Linked DNA regions of Homo sapiens. The protein of the gene in region 2 interacts with the protein of the main gene of each other region in a biochemical or structural test. Each region holds a gene or a part of one and is shown on either strand. Other genes may lie near its edges.

Region 1 (3,500 bases), on a different chromosome or scaffold from region 2:
GGGAAAATGAGGTGGGCCCTAGAGATTTCCCCTGAAACACTAGATGCAAAAATCTGGGTGGGCTCCGTGGAGGAGGTGGCATTAGAGGAGGCCTTGAGGAGGGCAATTCCCTCAGCCCAGCTTTCCTTCCCCTGGCATCTGTGAGCCCAGGATGTCTTCCTGCCACAGGGCCAGCTGTTACAGGGATCTGGGCCCTCCCCTTCACCCACAGGATGACAGCAGATGGCATTCTGCATACAGTGGGCCGGCTGGGGGCTATGATGGGTCCCCTGATCCTGATGAGCCGCCAAGCCCTGCCCCTGCTGCCTCCTCTCCTCTATGGCGTTATCTCCATTGCTTCCAGCCTGGTTGTGCTGTTCTTCCTCCCGGAGACCCAGGGACTTCCGCTCCCTGACACTATCCAGGACCTGGAGAGCCAGTGAGTGACCTGTGATCCCTGGGCATCGGGCTGGGCTTCCTCCTGGGCCAAGATGGAGACAGGCCTGGGCTGCCCAGGGCAAAGGCTCAAGAGTACCAAGGCCTGTGTTTCTGAAACCATTTAATCTTTCCAACAATCCTGCCAGAAATGTATTATTACTATCCCCATACTATTACTAGGGTCAGAGAAAGAAAGTGACTTATCCAAAGTCTCATGGGTAGAAAGTGATCATACCTCATGCAGGAAAATGTAATGGTTGAAAGCCCAGGCTTGGCAGCCAGGTTGCCTGGGCCCACGTTCCCCACCTGCCTGGGCAAGTGACTTAACCTCTCTCACCAAAACTGACAAAGGGAGATACAGATAGTCTCAACTGTCCTAGTGCAATTTTCCCACAAAGAATTTCAGGCCCAGACAGATCAACAGGTGAGTTCTTTCAAACCCTCAGAGAACAGATGGTGCCATCTCACACCCATTCTTTGACAGGGAGAAATGAGGGAGCACTCCCTGGCTGCATTTTATAGCCAGAACCACTTCTGTGGGCTTTAGCCTCCTCCTTTGTAAGATGGTGTTTAGAAAAAACAAACAAAACCCAGCCTGGCTCACAGAGTTGTTTTCAAGTTTAAGGGAAGTATTATTTTAAAGCACCTGGGAAAATGCCAGGCCTGCAGCAAGCACTCTGGACATGTGGTTATTGTGTCCTGGGTGACTGTTCACAGGGCCGCCTCAATTCTGATGGTGACCGAGGTCACAATGATAGTAATAATACTGAGTTCTTATTGTTTTATGTCACCTTATTTAATCGATACAACAACCACATGAGGTGCTATTACAGTCCAATTCCTTTGCCAAGGAAACTGAGATGCAGCAGGGTTATATAACTTGCCTAAGGACACCTGCAGAGACCCGGAGAAGCTGGGACTTCATTTTTTCTTTAATTTAATTGATTTTTGTTGTGTACCTACTATGTTTCAGGCACTGTCCCGCTTGGGTACACAGAAGGGAGTAAAAGCCTAATGCCATAGAGTTTACCCCCCAATAAGACTTGACCGCCATTTTGCCCCAAGCTCCGAGTACATACCCACTTCACCACATGGCACTGCTTTTCTTTGGATTATTCTAGGAAATCAACAGCAGCCCAGGGCAACCGGCAAGAGGCCGTCACTGTGGAAAGTACCTCGCTCTAGAAATTGTGCCTGCATGGAGCCCCTTTAGTCAAAGACTCCTGGAAAGGAGTTGCCTCTTCTCCAATCAGAGCGTGGAGGCGAGTTGGGCGACTTCAAGGGCCTGGCATGGCAGAGGCCAGGCAGCCGTGGCCGAGTGGACAGCGTGGCCGTCTGCTGTGGCTGAAGGCAGCTTCCACAGCTCACTCCTCTTCTCCCTGCCCTGATCAGATTCCCCACCTTACCCGGGCCCTACAGGAGCCTGTGCAGATGGCCATGCCCAACCAATAACGAGACGGTTCCCCTCCCTTTCCCTGCCAGGCTCATGTCTTTACACCTTCACTCAGCCACGCCAACCAGAGACTGGGTTCCAATCTCACCCCACCACATACAGAGCCCTCATCTGTGAAATGAGAATGATCACGTGACCCACCCCCCAGGGCAGGTATCAGGGTGAACTGATCTTAGCACCGGCCAAATAAATGGAACCTGCTGAGAGAGCTGCCAGATACAGGTGTCCAGGTTGTGCACTGGCCCGAGGCACGCAGCCAAGGAGGCGTGTGGGGTCTGAAACTCAGCCCCGGCTACACTGGCCCCACCACCCACCCTAGCAAAGGCTGTGTCCTCTCCAAAAAAAGGAGCTGTTTTAATCACTTTTCATTTACTCATCAGTGAGGGAGGGCTTCCAGCCCTATGGTTACGAAGACGGCCAAACACACCACCAAACACCAGACAGAGGAGGCTGGCAGCAGGTTACCACACACGTGCGCAGAGCCCACGAAGATGACGCTGCACTGAGGCATGGGGCGGGGTGCACTGAGGATCCGAGCGAGCAGCCAGGGCTGCAGGAAGGCAGCTTTGGAGCACAAAGGGGGTGGGGCAACTCCTGGCTTCTGCGGGAAGGTGTAATCAGCTTGTTTCATCATGCTGCAGGCTGGCGAGAAACGGAGCCTTACAAGCGTAGGGATAAGAGGAACCCCTCTTGGTCCCCTCGATGAGGGTTGTTGGGCCGGGGAGCCTCATCCACAGGGCGGAGTGAAAGGGGAGAAGGGGAGCTCACAGGCAGGCCTGCCAAGGCCTTCTGGCTTTGCCAGATGTCAAGGGCAGCACCTAATACTGAACCTTAACTTTCGGCTTTCAACCAAACGGCACCCTTTTGCTGTTTGTTTTCTGGAGGGGACACCTTTTCTTGATTCATGCCCAGACCTCCCTTGTCCAGGCCATGAAAACTCTGGGATGGTCGAGGCCGGCTGCCCATCTCAGATGGGCAAGGAAGCAAAAGTGCAGAGTGGTGGAGGGGCCAGCTTGCAGAAACACGGCCGAACCCGGCCCTGATCCTAGCCCAGGGCTCTTTCCAGCACAGGAGGCTCCTAGCCCTCGTCTCCAACCCTCCATGCCACTGATATCTGTGGCCCTGCCACAAAGTTACCCTCATGCCCTTCCCTGGAGACCCCACTCTGGGCCACCTCAATCTCAGGCCCCTCAACTCACCTCTTTCACCCTGTGTACACTGGGTCAATCACTCCTGCCTCCTCACAGCTCCCAAATCCACCTACTTCCCTTCACTCTGGCTACACCCTGGTTCACACCACGGTTGTAGCTCCAAACTGGTCCCTGATGTCTACATTGCACTCTGCACAACAGCCACCATGCTTATTAAGAAACGCAATCCAAACCAAATCCCTCCCTGCTGAAAGCCCTCCAGTGGCTCACAATAAGGATCACACTTCTCCCCCTGCCTGGTCAGGCAGCCATGGGACCCCAGCCTTTCCTCCCACTTCGGTAAATTTTAAAGGATTCGGATCATACAAAGAATGTTCTTGAACCAGCATGGAATTAAATTAGAAATCAATTATGGAAAGAGATATAGAAAACCTCTTCAAACTATACAACACACTTCTAAGTAACCCACGGGTCAAAGA
Region 2 (3,812 bases):
GAGGGGGAATTATTAATAATCACAATTTATCTGGCAGACAAATTCTTTTAAGTCTATACTCCATGAGAAAAAGTAATAAACAGGCTTCACAGTGGTTTAACGTTATAAGGGACTGAAGTGGACAGAGTGACCTCCTAAGGTCTGTGTTACCCACCCTCCCCAACCCACTCCAATAAAACAAACTACAGTCAAAAATTACACAAATATTCTCAAGACAGAAACCAATACTGATGAAATTAAAATCTAAAACCATAAAAACCCTAGAAGAAAACCTGGGCAATACCATTCAGGACATAGGCATGGGCAAAGACTTCATGACTAAAACAGCAAAAGCAATGACAACAGAAGCCAAAAATGACAAATGGGATCTAATTAAACTAAAGAGCTTCTACACAGCAAAAGAAACTATCATCAGAGGCAACAGGCAACCTACAGAATGGGAGAAAATTTTTGCAATCTGTCCATCTGACAAAGGGCTAATATCCAGAATCTACAAGGAACTGAAACAAATTTACAAGAACAAAACAACCCCATCAAAAAGTGGGCAAAGGATATGAACAGACACTTCTCAAAAGAAGACATTTATGCGGCCAACAAACATATGAAAAAAGCTCATCATCACTGGTCATTAAAGAAATGCAAATCAAAACCTCAATGAGATACCATCTCACGCCAATTAGAATGGCGATCATTAAAGTCAGGAAACAACAGATGCTGGAGAGGATGTGGACAAATAGGAACATTTTTACACTGTTGGTGGGAGTGTAAATTAGTTCAGCTATTGTGGAAGACAGTGTGGCGATTCCTCAAGGATCTAGAACCAGAAATACCATTTGACCCAGCAATGTCATTACTGGGTATATACCCAAAGGATTATAAATCATTCTACTATAAAGGCACATGCACACATATGTTTATTGCAGCACTATTTACAATACCAAAGACTTGGAACCAACCCCAATGCCCATCAATGATAGACTAGATAAAGAAACTACCATACATATACACCATGGATACTATGTAGCCATAAAAAAGAATGAGCTCATGTCCTTTGCAGGGACATGGATGAAGCTGGAAACCATCATTCTCAGCAAACTAACACAGGAACAGAAAACCAAACGCTGCATGTTCTCACTCATAAGCAGGAGGGAGAGCTTTAGGACAAACACCTAATGCATTCAGGGCTTAAAACCCAGATGATGGGTTGACAGGTGCAGCAAACCACCATAGCACAAGTATAACTATGTAAAAAACCTGCATGTTCAGAACATGTATCCCAGAACTTAAAGTAAAAAAAAAAATAAATAAATAAAAGTACAGTGAGCTCCCAGCTATCTGTGCTAGAAGCAGAATAGTTTATGCACTGAGAAAAAGGAGGAGGAGAGTAGCGGGGCCCACCCTCTGCCTCCTCAGGCACTCTGTGAGGTTATCCCTGGATCCCTGGGAGCAGGAAGAGGGCTGACGGGTGAAACTGAAGACAGAAAAATATAGCTCTGAAAAGTAAGCTGCACTATAATGAAGGCGTGAAGGACACCAGCTGCACCCAATAAGAAGGTGGTGAGAGGTGCCGGAGTGTTTTCCTCGGCATGTGTTACTGACACATGTGGAACCTGTTTCTCTGTAGGTCTTTAAATCAGAGAAGATTCTCCTAGCCCTGGGATAATTAGGGACACTTATTTAAAGGTTGAGGATTCAACTACATGACCTCTGAAGAATGCATCCTTCAAGCCTGAAGATATACGTAAAGCAAAAACCATTTATTTGACATAGAATTAAATAATTTATCACTTGTGTCTTAACATTTAAGCCCATCTATAGAACTACATGAAAACAAAATTTGTCTGTTGTGGTAATTCAGGCATTCTTTCAACAAAGATTTAACATGTCCAACACATACAGCAATGCTGGAGAAGCAAAGTACAGAAAGATTAGAGAGGTGAGGGAAACACAGAATTTTCCACTGTAAGCAGCATAAGAGATTATTCAGAGGAATAGGAGGAGGACAGAATTAATCAGGGAAGACTTCTTACAAGGGATGAAATCTAAATCAAGTCTGAATTTGTGATGATCACAAATTGGCAGACAAAGAATGACAGAAAGAGAAACCAAAAGGGCATTTACACATTAAGGACTACCCATAAACAAAGGCATGGAATTGCAGTTTTCTAAAGAAAAAATTAGCCTGGAAGCTATGGAGGGACCATGATGGAGAACAAGGTCAGGCCCAGTGGACTATGGCCTTGGACACTCTGAGGAAGGTGCTCCAACACAAAGCAAAACATTGTGACTGGTTCTTAAAAAACTACTCCCGAGACACATGCAAACGCCCATGGCTCTTCCTTACCTTTCCCATAGAAGAATTTGCGGTAATAATAGGCCCCAAGGTCAATGTGTTCTATGATGTAGCGCTTCACTTTCTCCCTGTGAATAGGCTGGTTTTCTCTGGGCACTTCCAAGACGGAGACACCTGCATTTGTGCAGTGAGAGCTGAGTGACGATTCGAAAGAGCAGCTTTCCCCAGAACTGAAAGAGGATGAGTTGGCTCGAGAGAGCGCAATCCGCCTGTCGCCTTCCCCTCCAGTCTCATTTCTAAAGTAAGGACAACTAAGGACGAGGTCGTTACTTTTCCCATCACCCTCATCGGCATCCAGGTTCTCTTTGGAGTTGAGGTCCTCCTTGCTCCCTAAAGGGGACTCACAGTTGCCTGTCTGGCCCGTAGGCATCTGAGTCTGGGATGCTGCAGATGCCCCAGTGGTTATGTTTTTCCTTTTCCCCACATTAGCCCTCGTAGCCATGGCTTCGTTGATATTAAACAAAATGCTCTGGACATCATAATGTGCAAAACATCGCTGACAATTCCAAGGGCGAATGCCCCTCTCCAGTCGGCTCTCCTCCAGCTCAGACGTGAACTTGAAAGTTTCGTGCTCACTTTTAACAGTTCGAAGCTTTCGGAAGAGAGATGTTTCCACCGACTCTGATTTCAACCTCCGTTTGAAAGGCTTGTCCCTGTCTCTCCCCATCAGGAGGGCACTGTCCACATAATCTAATCCTGAGATGCGGACAAATTCTCCCCTAGAAATCTGTGCTGCTGCATGAAGGCTCGGAGAGATTGCAGGGTCACAGCGGAAAAATTCAGGGAACCCAAAAGGGACCATTGCTTTGTGGTCATAATTTTCTACTCGGTACCCTCTGAGCATAGCAAAAAAGTTTTCACCAGATAAGCCTTGCCTGTCGATGGATGAAGTACTTCCATACTCCCTGTGCAGGGCAGCCCCGGTGTTGGGGTTGACTGCATTTTGGTCTAAGACATCTTCGGCATCAATGTCACTGATAGTGACATCACTATTGCTCCTCTGTCTTATGGGGTGAAGTCCTCTTTGGGGGGAATGGACAAAGATGTCTCCGATTGTGTACTTGGCCTCCACGAAGTCCAGATCGAGCTGTTCATCTTGCTGACCTTCACTCTGGTCACTCTGCCCATTCTGCAGGACAGAAGTGATGCTTTCATAACTGGTCTGAGACCGGCTTTCCCACAGTGCCTTGCATGTTAGCTCCTTGGAACAGTCCTTTTTAGGAGGCCATTCAGACACCCTTGCTCTCACACCCATCTTGGGCACAGCTGGGGTACCATTAGCCGGACCACCACCGCCAGTCTCATTGGAATTCGAGGCATTTAAAGAAGTAGTGGGTCCCATGTTGCCATTAATGGCTTTAAATTTCCGAGCAAAATAATCATCTGACTGCATGATTCTAGGGGGATCCTTGAACTTTGAAGAGGCTCTGCCTAGCTTGTGCTTCTCTTCTTGTGACTG
Region 3 (3,500 bases), on a different chromosome or scaffold from region 2:
CCTTTGGGAAACAGAGGGGACTCCCACTGGGTGTGTGCTTTAGGGCTTCAGGAAGGGGGATGGGGAATGGGGTGAAAATGAATTTCTGCAGCTGTAAGGAACCAGGCCAAATTTAGGATGAACATATTTAGATTTTTAAAAATTATTTTCTGATTTCACTAAACAGCTCACTATTTTAAAAATTTAAAGCATCTAGAAATGTGTATAAAGAATCAGGCTGTTATTTTTTAATGTGATAAAAGAACTGGATGGTAAGATCCTTGAAGGCTGAATCTGGTTGTCTTGCCTTTTTTTATTTTTCCAGTTTAAATACTAAACTACAGGCCAACTTTTATGAATGTTCACTTACCTTACTGCAGTTTATAGCAATGAATGCTGATTCCATTCCTGTACACAGTGCGGGGGCTGGTGACAAGATGGACAGAGACTCCACTGGGCAACCAGACAGCTGGCAGAATCCTGGCTCTGTCACTTAGGAGTTTTATGGTCTTTGGCAAGTTCCTTAATTCCTCAGAGCCCCAGGTTCCTCATCCACAAAGTGGGAATATCTTGGAGAGCTATTGTATCACTTATATATAAAGTATCCTAGCATATTATAGGTATCAAATTATGATAGCTATTGTTATGATTATTGCTAAATCATGGATAAGCCATCAGCTGAAACCATTGTCTAAATGCTGGGAAAGAGGGAACCCATTTAGGAGGAGGTCATCTTTGAAAGGAGCAGTTTATTAATGTGTAATCTATGTCTTCCAGTCAAAAATGCCTCTAGAAATTACAAGACTGGTAAATATAACGAATTTCAGCCGTGCCTTTAAAAAACAACATACCCCTTGAATCTGTAACCACTTGAAGGCTTTATTCAGTCCTATTTGCAGCACAGATGTCAGATGTTCATAGTTATGGGACCTTTAATGAGATGTGTCATTGCTTCTATACCACCTAAAGCTTCCCAATGATCATGTTAAGTAGCATAGACTGGAAGTCTCAGGCACTGAAAGCACCACTTCCGAGTAAAGCTGCCAAATGTAGGTGAGAAAACCACTCCCAGCCAACATTACCATCTGGTACTGGATCTTCCTCAACTAATGCACCTCACTACAAAAATAAAGCTAAACTCCCTGAAATCAAGAGACATAATAATCTGCCAACATCCTTGTGTCATTATCCAGATCAGAGCCTGGCTTTCCACATATTCCAAAAGCTGAGATGGACAATTAAGAATCGCCATACTGGAGATCACCTAGGTAAATACACCTGTGCAGATTCTTTTCTGGAAGCAAAAAGAAGGAGGATAATGAAGTCTGTTCCTGGCCACAATTTTAAATTCTACCACAATTAACCTCAAATCTTGCTTCTGCATTTCTCTACTTTCTTCACCTGATAATTTGCATCCTATCTGCATATCACAGTCTGTTGCTAAGGGGTTACTAGGGTGAATTATATACATGATTAAAAGCCCAAATAGAATATTGGTAAAGTTCTTGAAGAAAGTCTAGAGACTGACTTATTTCACCCCAGAAATGTTGACTATCTGGTACTCAAATTGACTCTACATGGTATCTGAAATATTCTGATTTTAACACTTACTCAAATTAAATATATTTTATCTTAGGGAAGCACTAGAGGTAAAAATGTATTATCCCACAGCATTTTTCCAGAATCTATTTTAATATTCACAAGAACATTGAGAACAATGATTGTCAATCCTAGGTGCATATTAAAGCCACCTGAGGATTCTTTTTTAAAAAGTACAAATGCCTGGGTCCTGCCACCAAAGATTCTGATTACATTGGTTAGAGGTAGGATCCAGGGACCAGGATTTTTTAAAGCTGCCCAGTTAGAGTTGAGAACCACTGTTCCAACGCAGTGTTGCTCATTTTAATTATCACTTGAGAACCTTGTTGAAAATGTTTCCCAGGTCCCACCTCGAACCTCCTGGATCAGAATTTTCTGGGAGGACAGGTGGGAAATGCATATTTTAAACAAGTACTGTCTTAGTCTATTCAGGCTGCAATAACAAATCAGCAGAGATTGGCTGGCTTATAAATAGTAGAAATTTATTTTTCACAGCTCTGGAGGCCAGAATTCTGAGATCAGGGTTCTGGTGAGGGTTCTCTTCCTGGCTGTAAGACTGCTGGCTTCTCACTGTGTCTTCACATAGTGGAAGGGGCAAAGGAGCTCTCGGAGGTCTCTTTTATAAAGGAACTAATCCCATTCAGAAGGGTTCCACCCCTATGAGCAAAAGCCCCACCTCCCAAATACACCACTCCCTAATACCATTGTTATAGGAGGTATAACACCTAATACCAAGTTAAGATTTCAACATATGAAATTTGAGGGGACAGAAATATTCCTACCATATCAAGTACTTCAGGTGATTCAGAAGAACAAAGTTTGAAAACAACTCCAGAGCCATAAGGAAAATCTAGTGATGCCTTTGAAAAGAAATGAAACTAATCATTGATTGAACCCACTACTGTGTTTCAGACTGCTTTGGAACTTTCTGACAATTTTATAGCAATTATCTCACATTTAGAAATCTGCCTGATTGAGAAATTCAACATAATTCTGAAAAGAGAGAGAAAAAAATATAAATCTACATATACTCTTCAATCGTAAAATCATAATTTATAAGGTACATTTCAGCAAACAAAATCAAAGCAGTTCATGAAATAATCTTATTAATACTCAAAATGTCCTTTGAGTTGCATGCTGAGGAGTAGTAGCTTGTAAATAGCTATGAAAAAATCACCAGACCTTCCCAAATTCTATTTGCACTGGCTCTAGCCAAGTTTAACAAATGCTACCCTCTCACCCTAATAACAACAAGCACTTCCTTCTTTACCTTTGCGATCTGAGCTCACTGCAACCTCCGTCTCCCGGGTTCAAGCAATTCTCCTGCCTCAGCCTCCCAAGTAGCTGGGACTACAGGTTCATACCACCACGCCAGCTAATTTTTTTGCATTTTAGTAGAGATGGGGTTTCACCATGTTGCCCAGGCTGGTCTCAAATCCCTGAGCTCAGGCAATCTGCCCACGTTGGCCTCCAAAGTGCCAGGATTACAGGCATGAGCCACAGAGCCGGGCGCATGTTCTCTTTTAAGCTTGAAAGGTACATGAGTCAGGACAACTGTTAAAATTTGGGTGTTGGCCAGGCACAGTGACTCACACCTGAATCCCTGGGCTCTGGGAGGCCTAGGCAGGAGGATCACTCAAGGCCAGGGGTTCGAGACAAGCCTGAGTAACCCCATCTCTACCAAAAAAACATTTTTTTTTAATTACCCAGGCATGGTGGGGTGAACCTGTAGTCACATGTACTTGAGAGGCTGAAGCGGAAGAATCGCTTGAGCTCAGGAGGCTGAGATTACAGTGAGCTGTGAACACCCTGCACCAGTCTAGTCTGGGTGACAGAGTGAGACCCTATCTCAAAAAAAAAAAAAAAAAAAAAAAGGTGGGGGGTGGGCGGGGGTTGTTGGCAAAAGAATGAGGGAATGGGAA
Region 4 (3,104 bases), on a different chromosome or scaffold from region 2:
AATGCATGCTCCACAGGCAGCCAGAGGGAGCCGCAAACATGGCGTGTTGGATTTCCATGCTGGTCCCTGGGGAGCGGAGAGCCACAGGCCTCTTCCCCTCCCTCTCCCTCTCCCTCCCTCCCTCTCTCCCCCTACCCTGTCTCTCTCTCTCCCCCCCCACTCTCTCTCCCTCCCTCTCTCCCCCCACCCTGTCTTTCTCTCTCCCTCCCCACCTCCCCCTCTCTCTCCCTCCCCCTCCTCCCCCTCCCTCTCCCCCCACCTTTTCTCTCTCCCTCCCCACCTCCCCCTCCCTCTCCCTCCCCCCTCACCTCCCCTCCCTTTCCCTCCCTCTCTCCCTCTCTCCTCCCCTCCCCCTCCCTCTCCCTCCCTCTCTCCCTCTCTCCTCCCCGCCTCCCCATCCCTCTCCCTCTCCCTCCTCTCTCTCTCCCCCTACCCTGTTTTCTCTCTCCCTCCCCGCCTCCCCCTCCCTCTCCCCCATACCCTATCTTTCTCTCTCCCTCCCTGCCACCCCCTCCCTCTCCCTCTCCCTCTCCCTCTCCCTCTCCCTCCCTCTCTCCCCACACCCTGTCTTTCTTTCTCCCTCCCCACCTCCCCTCTTCTCCCACCCCGGGGTCTGCGTGGAGGCCACTGCTCCGTCCCTGCTGAGGATTCTGCTGCACTCTGGCTCCTGCCTGTGGGAATCCGTCCTGTCTCTCTGGCTGGTGTCTCTCTGGCTGGCGTCCCTGCCCAGATGCCGCAGCTTGATGGGGATGCTCTTTCATTCCTTTATGCTGCTTGGGACAGGTGCGCTCCCAGAAGGGATCCTGTCGCCAGTTCTGGGGGAGCCCAGCCATGCTCTCCCCCTGCCCACCCCACAGAGCCCTCTCTGGACCTTGTGCCAGCACCCTGCTCCAGTGAATCTTTCAACCCTCTTCCCATTCACCAATTCTCTCTTCAGTGCTGTCCACACTGGAGTTGGTTCTGACCACTTTTGTAGTGTTTTTTTCCACTTAAATGATTGTATTTTTTACATCCAGGATTTGTAATTTTTAAAAATAGATGCCTGTTCATTTTACTCCTTAGACAGAAGCCAAATGTATTTCCTAACATTTTATCCATGCTGTCTCTGTGGATCCTGCACATATTTAAACATAGCCTAAGCGTACCTGTTTGCTCGTTATTTTTATCTCCCTGAGATGGATCCATGGGTCCACTGGCCCTGTTGATTTTCTGAGTCGTATTTCTTAGTGTGTTTGGGCCATGCGAGCTTGGGGATGTTGATTTCTAGGTTTGTTGGGGACAGAGGGCTTTCTCTTTGTGCTGTCAGCCTTGTGTTCTGGGCTCCCCCGTCCCCAGCTCTCCTTTCCTTGTCTACCAGATTTCAGTGGCCTTGGCCCAGCCCCACAGCCCCCAGCCAGGACTGTGGCCTTTCCTGGCAGCTGCTGGGGTCGTCCTGTGCTCTGAGGTGCCTCCAGGGTCAGGGCCGGTCAGCTGAGCAGCCCCAGGGCTCCAGACGGCACATGCTGAGGTCACCACAGCCGGCTCCACCCCTGCTCAGGCCGAGGTCCCCCAGGGAGGGGCTTGTCCCTGGTCTGGATCCTAGGGGACACTTTGATTCTCTGCTGGCCACCCCCAGAGTCACACAGCTCCAGGGTCAACCCAAACATCCGGACTTCCTCCGCCCCACTCGTCAGGGGAGGCATTGATCTTCTTTTTGAGACAGGGTCTTGCTCAGTCACCCAGGCTGGCGTGCAGTGGTGTAATCACAGCTCACTGCAGCCTCAACCTCCTGGGCTCAAATGATCCTCCTGACTCAGCCTCCTCAGTGGCTGGGACTACAGGCGCCCGCCACCACACTTGGCTAATTTTTGTATTTTTTGTAGAGACGGGGGTCTCACCATGTTGCCCAGGCTGGTCTTGAACTCCTGTCCTCAGGTGATCCACCCGCCTCGGCCTCCCACAGTGCTGGGATGACAGGCTTGAGCCACTGCACCCAGCCGGAGTATCATTTTTATGAATGATTTCAAACATGCAGAAAAATACAAAAACAATATACGAGGTACACACGTGCCCATGGCCTTGGACCCACAGACGTCACCATTCCCAGCCCACCCTTCTCCATGGACACCCCTCCCTCCCCTCCCCCAAGTCTCCCCTGTTCTCTCTCTGGGCCACAGTGGGGGGTTCCAGGGCCTGGGAGGGGGCTCAAAGCTCCGATGGGACTGGGCAGTGTCAGGTGGCTGCAGCCCCCATACGCTATGCCTCTGACCCGCCCACACCCCCCACCGCGGCTTCTCCTCCGGGCTGCAGGGTGTGCAGCCCCCGCCCGCAGTCCCCCCTCCTTCGCCCTGTGTGACTCCTGGGGCTCCGTGTGACCACTCTGTGTGGTTTGTGTGTTTGCTTCTCTGCAGCCGCCCCGTGGGGAGGGTGGTGTCTCTCTGGCCCTGTGCTGTGCCCCCGCCTGGGTTTACAGATGTCTGTCATTGCTGTGGGGGTGACGGTCCCTGCGCTGGCCTGGAGAGAGGTTCGGGGCCAACGGGCAGCGGGCACCCCGGTGAAAGTCCCTCGAGGCTGCGGTGGCGACACCACGTCCAGCCACTTCTCAGGTCGTCCTAGCCAGGTGCCATTCATCCCAGGCGGACAGGGGGCCGACCACCGGCCCCATCTCTCTCCACTGCCACCTCTCCCTGTGTGTCCCGGGAGGGGCCGCCCGCTGGGCCTCGGCTCCTTACCTGGTAGACGAGGGCAGCAGCACTGCAGGGCAGGCTCTGAGGGGCTTCAGGGAGACGCAGGTGCTGGCCTCAGACTCCAGGATGCTGCGGCCAGGCCAGGCGCCATCTGGGTGCAGGGGCGGCCACAGGGCAGCTGTCGCCATATCGACAGCAGCCGTCCGTCTGGGCTCCCGGGGCCACCTGCCCGCCGCTCCTTCCTCTCCTGGCTTATTTTCCAAACAATTTGCTTAACGTGATTCCCGGCCAAGCTAAACATGACTAATCGTGTTTACCCGGTGATCCCGCGCCTCCTGGCAGGCGGGGCTGGGGCCCAGGAGGAAGGAATGCCTGCATGTGCTGGTTCAGGGACTCACCACCCTGGCGTCCTCCCTTCTTCTCTTGCAGAGCCTGACG

The links. The genes of interacting proteins can lie anywhere in the genome.
Region 1: the proteins of SIPA1L2 (region 2) and SLC22A11 interact in a test that uses a peptide from one of them, tested with the Homo sapiens proteins (one large-scale study listed by IntAct).
Region 3: the proteins of SIPA1L2 (region 2) and SLC15A5 interact in a test that uses a peptide from one of them, tested with the Homo sapiens proteins (one large-scale study listed by IntAct).
Region 4: the proteins of SIPA1L2 (region 2) and SSTR5 interact in a test that uses a peptide from one of them, tested with the Homo sapiens proteins (one large-scale study listed by IntAct).

What each region holds. Positions count from the first base shown.
Region 1 is NC_000011.10:64,569,441-64,572,940, forward strand, and holds the end of SLC22A11 (solute carrier family 22 member 11), read left to right. Parts: intron 1-211; coding exon 212-418; intron 419-1,538; coding exon 1,539-1,602; 3' UTR 1,603-3,435; downstream 3,436-3,500. UniProt on the Homo sapiens protein: Antiporter that mediates the transport of conjugated steroids and other specific organic anions at the basal membrane of syncytiotrophoblast and at the apical membrane of proximal tubule epithelial cells, in exchange for anionic compounds.
Region 2 is NC_000001.11:232,511,513-232,515,324, forward strand, and holds part of SIPA1L2 (signal-induced proliferation-associated 1-like protein 2), read right to left. Parts: coding exon 2,345-3,812; intron 1-2,344.
Region 3 is NC_000012.12:16,267,686-16,271,185, reverse strand, and holds part of SLC15A5 (solute carrier family 15 member 5), read left to right. Parts: exon of another isoform or gene 1-1,273; intron 1,274-2,360; exon of another isoform or gene 2,361-2,891; intron 2,892-3,500. UniProt on the Homo sapiens protein: Proton oligopeptide cotransporter.
Region 4 is NC_000016.10:1,075,747-1,078,850, forward strand, and holds part of SSTR5 (somatostatin receptor type 5), read left to right. Parts: intron 1-1,877; exon of another isoform or gene 1,878-1,966; intron 1,967-2,711; exon of another isoform or gene 2,712-2,985; intron 2,986-3,079; exon of another isoform or gene 3,080-3,095; 5' UTR 3,096-3,104.